Linked DNA regions of Homo sapiens: region 1 is linked to region 2. The links come from fine-mapping of genetic effects on gene expression. A gene starts in region 2. The other region holds a variant in brackets. All regions are shown on one strand. Distances are between the middles of the regions.

Region 1 (2,500 bases), 460 kb before region 2:
GGCTATTGAATTCCTATTGCTAAGGATGCAGTCATTCTGGGATCACATGTGTACAACTTCTTATTCTACACATTTATTAATCACTTACTATGTACCACACACTCTGCTAGGGATACAGATTTGCATACGACATACTCTTTATCCTGGAGAAACTCACATACTAGTAAGGGAGGAAAAAATGTAAAAAAAAAAAAAAAATCTGAATACCATACAGAATATGAGAGCCCCTGGGTATCTTCAAAACATTTCCAAGTGTTTCCCCTGACCATCTTTGCCACCTTACTGTGACTGATTGACTGATTTGCATGCCACTAATTTCCTTCTGCCACTTTGTATATTTACTGGTTTATGTGTTCGTTGTCTGCCTTCTCCACTCCTTGCCCTAACCGGAATGTAAGCTACACAGGGCAAGGACTTGTCTGTTTACTACTAAGTCTCGACACCTGGACTATTCATAAAACATATTGCCTCCCTTTCACGTGCCAAGCATAACACTCAATCTACATGGAATACAGAGAGGAAGATTGCATGGGCCTTTCATCAAAGAGCTCACTATAGAGTGGAAAAGACATTTACTGTGATCAAAATAGAGTGTGATAAATACTACGCTAGAAGCGGATAAACTTCTTTCAGTAGTTATTCAAGGGTTAGGTAACCTGATGGTTCTTTCATCTGCTAGCTTACACGAATTTCCACTCCTGCTAGGTTGCTCTATGGACTCTTCCACAAGGATAGCATGTGCATTCTGAACTAGACATCTAGCTTCCCAGCTCTCAATGGATGTGAATGTGCTGATTGGGAGATCAGAGATGCTAAGAGTAGCCAGCACAATGACAACAGAAAGAAATGGCAGCCTTAAGTAGGGAGGAGATTTTTTTTAATGAAGAAAAATTATTGACAAAGAAACCATGGAGAAAGAGGAAGACTAAAAGGGCTGTCTGGAGTCATTTTGTGGAGGGCCAAA[T/C]GGTCAAACACATCTTAGTGAACATGCTGCCATTCCACTTAGCAGAGGTATGTTAAGAGCTCTGCTTACCCCAGAACAGTTTCCTTCAAAGACGAAGTCCTGATTCCCTTAGAGCAAGCCGGGGTATTGTTGAGATGGTCTCAGCAATCCCCATCATCAACCGTGCCACTCATTCTTATTTTGTCCTTTTCGTCTCTTCCTTGAGTTGTGCTCTGCTGTGCTTTAGGGAGGACCTTGCCTTCTATTGCCAGCTCTGAATCTTCAAACTGCCCTCAGGGAATGCTCCTCCTGGCTGTGCTTTGGCCCCACACTTGAGACAACATTCCAGGATCGCCCTCATGGGTGGGATCCAGGAAACTTCTATTATAGAAGGTACTCCATAAATGTTATTTTCCTTCCCACTGCAACAGATGTGCACATAAACGGCAGACATCAGGGAATTCTTCCCTCCTTTCTCCACATTACCTTTGCTTGTTTTAAAAATAAATTGAGAAGCAAACATCAGCAAGAGAGATTTCAATGGTTTAAAAAGAGGTTATGCTGTTTCTCAGAAAGTACAGATTTAAATGTTAAACTTAGCTCAGGTATCAGCTCTACTGAGATTTTTTTCTGACTCATCCCCGCTGCCTGCCTCCCACCTATATTGAGTTATGTGCTCCAACAGCAACTTCTGCTTCCGTCTATCATAGCGTTTATGACATGGCACCATATTTTTTTGTTAACAGATCAGCCTCCCCAACTAGACTGTGAGCGCCTTAAAGCAGGAATTGTTATAATTATTTTCACTGCCAAACTCGGCATCTGGCATATCGTATGCACTCAGGGAATGTCTACGGAATGAATGAACTTAAGGATAATACACGTGACGGAATGTTAAAATGGAAGTTTTGGCTGAGATCTAAAGATGACAGATATAAGATACCAAAGTGAACTGGAAACAGACCACCCTGAAGAATGTGCAAGAAGGGTGCCTGAGGACCCATTAATCAACTCTTAAACCTTTCATTGATGTGGAAGGTCAGACAGAGATGGATTTTTAGGAAAGAGCTGTTGGTTTACTGCACATCAGGCCTCCTTCCAGGGTGAAGTATGAAGAGATCCTCTCCCTTCAGGAGTCAGGAAGACACAGACCAGCAGAGAATCTGCTGCATGTCCCTGAGGTTGTGGCACATGGTGGCTTGTATGTGACTCCTGTCTGGAAGAGACAGGCTGGCTGACAGCTGCAGTGTAAAAGTGAAGTAGAGGTTACCCTGGGATCAACCAGCACTGCCAGAGTCTGTCCAGATCCAAAAGACAAAGGTTTCCCATAGACCCCAAGTGGCCCATGTATGAGAGAGCTGCCAGGGGTTCTCAGATCCTGTCCAACATGGCCACCTAACGAGGTGGAGCAGTCACCATAAAGAAGCATGAGGTTGGGCCGGGAGCAGTGGTTCATGCTTTTAATCCTGGCACTTTGGGAGGCCAAGGTGGGTGGATCACTTGAGGGCAGGAATTCAAGACCAGCCTGGCCAACATAGTGAAACCCCGTCTCTACTA
Region 2 (2,967 bases):
AAGGTTAGGGAAAGGGAACCAAATTCCAGGAAAAGCCAAGGCCCACAACAAAAACTAACACAGCCTGGAAGGCCCAGCCTCCTCCCAGTAAACTTATTAATTTTATCCAGAAAGACATGGCTCTCCACCCTCTGGGGTTATGCCCTTCTCCCAGCACACATGTTTTGACTTCCAAATCCAGCCAGGCAGGCTCCCAACCTCCCTCCCCCTCAAAATTGATCTCCAGGCCCAGCTGACCCCCTCTGATCTGTTCCCCCAATCATCCTTAATAACAGTGCTCTGGGCCTCCCACTAGGAGGTCCTCCAAGAGCCAGGCCAGTGGCCATCAGGTCAAGAGCCAAGCATGAGGGCCCCATTAACAGGAGACTCCCAGAAGACCAAGCGGCAGTCATCTGGCTGGAAAATCCAGCAAGCAAGTTAAAAAGGAAAAAAATCAGGACATACACGTGGTGGATCATAGAAAAAAAAGAGGAAAAGCAAGCAAAAACTATACAAAGCAAAACTCTACCATTTAAATAACAGCCACAAAATAAAAGACTTTCCCTTCTTTCATTCTGATTTACAAGTCAAAAGAATAAGCACCTCACCCCTCCTGGTCTCATACTTTAAAATTTAACCTAAGGATTAACTGCTTTTCAGACTTTGGTCATGTCATGACTGACTCTTCGGGGAAGAAATTTGTGTTAAGACACAGAAGTGCTTTAGTGGAAAACAGCCCATGATGAGGGAAATTCACCATTTTGCACCTTGTCAATTTTTTTTTTTTTTTTCTGAGACGCTCTGTCCCCCAGGCTGGAGTGCAGTGGCACGATCTCAGCTCACTGCAAGCTCCGCCTCCTGGGTTCACGCTATTCTCCTGCCTCAGCCTCCCGAGAAGCTGGGACTGCAGGCGCCCGCCACCACGCCCGGCTAATTTTTTGTATTTTTAGTAGAGACGGGGGTTTCACCGTGTTAGCCTGGATGGTCTCGATCTCCTGACCTCGTGATCCACCCGCCTTGGCCTCCCAAAGTGCTGGGATTACAGGCGTGAGCCACCGCGCCCGGCCCCTTGTCAATCTTTAAATAAAAAGGAAACGGCTAAAAATGAAAAGATATCCCTAGGCCTTTCTACTCAGGATAACTGTAACCAAACAGCATTATCTCATCTAAACTCAGCTGTGCCTCAAACATTATCACAAGTGCTGGAAGCGTTTAAATCTACAAGCAACACTAGCCTAAAAATGCCTTCGGTAGCCAGACGTGAATTAAAGGCTCCTCAAATGCCAGGAAAATGTCCTACAAGGGTAAGGGGAGGAGAGAAAGAGTACTGAATACAGATAAGTGGGCACTGATCGGAGAGGAAGCAGCACGGGTTCCAGACACCTAATAGGCAGCCTTGGGGATGCAGTCAAGGCCGACCCTTCCCTTCCCTTCCCTTAAGTGGCCGGACGCCTCACCCAGAAGAGGACACAGGGGACTCAACAACGTCTCGGGAACAACGGCCCGGCGGGTGTGAGACTAAGCGGCCAGGAGGAGGAAGGGGAGGAGGAGGCAGGGGAGGAGGAGGCAACGACTGCGGGAAAGGGGAAGGAAGGGCCGGGCCGGGTTGGAGAAGCCTCTTTCTGGGCGTGCGCGCTAAGAGCCTGCGCACCAGCAAAAGCCCCCAGCGCCCACGTGGGACTGAGAGGAGGGTCACTTACAGTACTTGTCCAATCTGAAATTACATTTTAGCTAGACGGATTCTGCACGTAGCCGCGCCGAACCCCACGGCGCCTGAGCAGGGCGGTCCCGGGGCGGCTACAGCCCCGCCTTGCGCGCGATCCCGCCCCCGCCGGCGCGGCCCCTGTAAAGCGCGGCCCCTGTAAAGCGCGGCCCCTGTAAAGCGCGGCCCCTGTAAAGCGCGGCCCCTGTAAAGCGCGGCCCCTGTAAAGCGCGGCCCCTGTAAAGCGCGGCCCCTGTAAAGCGCGGCCTGATTGGCCCTTTGAACCGGGCGTGGGATTGGCCGTCGCCTGCCCACCCCGCGGCTGCAGCGTTCCCTGGGGCCTAGCCAACCGCGGGCAGGGCTGGGCAAGGCGGGAGGAGCGCGGACCCAAGATCGGCTACGCTGCGTCTGCTCAGGCTGCGAGTTCCCGGCTCTGGGGACTCACCTTGCGGAGCTTACCCAGGCGGACTCTCCGCAGCCCCTGATGGGTGTGTGTGTCAGACCGTTTACTAAACACCAGGACTGTTGTAGGCGACTGTAAGAAATAAGAATATTGCATGGTTACAATTCTTGAATGCTTACCTTGTGTCTTGTTCCTTACTCTACAGAAATTTTCTAATCCCGTGGCGAACCCCCGTACTTCAACGTATGACATTCTGTAAATCTACAAAACAGATGGGTCCCTGCCTTTGAGAAGTTTTTACAATTTAGTGGGTACTGGACACGGACCTAATTTAATTCTCACATGCCTTCCCTTTCTAATAAGCTGCATGTTATGTATCCCTATTCTACAGATGTGGGGAATCCGAAATTTTTAGCTTTTACTGGGACACACAGCTAGCAAGCAACTAAAGCGAGAATTCCAACCTGAGCTCCAATCCGAACTATTTTCATAAAAGGCAGGATCCCAGGCTGAGGGAGTTCGAGGTTTGGGAGACAGTTTAGCAGTCGCTGAGTCCAAACATGTTGTTTTCCTAGAAAAGAAAACTGAGATCCAGGAAAGGGAAGTGATTTTCCAAAGACACACCTGTGAAAGGTAATAATTTCACTGAACGGATCTTAAGTGGCAGGTGCACTAAGATTGTCTGCTATCTTCACAACAACCCCGAAGTAAATAAGTGCTCTTATCTTGGTCTTACAGGTGAGGAGAACAGCCCAGTGAGGCTGAGGCCACACAATTAACCCCAGTCTTTGCACTACAACTCTACCAGGGATCCTGGTTTGGCTCATTTTCTTTCTTCTGCACCATGATTGTTCACCTTTTCATTACCAGCAACATACCCAAA

Alleles and levels. Positions count from the first base shown, and alleles are read on the strand shown. Sizes are in standard deviations (SD) of each study's normalised expression.
As copies of T replace C in region 1, the expression in pituitary of the gene that starts at base 1,493 in region 2 goes up (small effect, 0.31 SD a copy in GTEx).

Evidence for each region. PIP is the estimated chance that this variant, and not a neighbour inherited with it, causes the effect. A credible set is the group of variants that fine-mapping cannot tell apart.
Region 1: its variant is the best candidate, but not a certain one, in a credible set for the expression of FGGY in pituitary (GTEx, PIP 0.63).

What each region holds. Positions count from the first base shown.
Region 1 is chr1:59,754,597-59,757,096 of GRCh38, reverse strand. All of the region lies in intron 14 of FGGY (FGGY carbohydrate kinase domain containing), which reads right to left. Among named protein-coding and RNA genes, the nearest start is that of MIR4711, 23 kb to the right of the region's middle. The variant T/C (reference allele first, on the strand shown) is at 965.
Region 2 is chr1:59,295,620-59,298,586 of GRCh38, reverse strand. It overlaps FGGY (FGGY carbohydrate kinase domain containing), which reads right to left and starts at 1,493. Exons shown (of 16, transcript NM_018291.5): 1 at 1,437-1,493. It overlaps FGGY-DT (FGGY divergent transcript), which reads left to right and starts at 2,037. Exons shown (of 2, transcript XR_001738089.2): 1 at 2,037-2,218; 2 at 2,823-2,967. RefSeq lists an enhancer at 1-34 and silencers at 1,452-1,541, 1,552-2,091.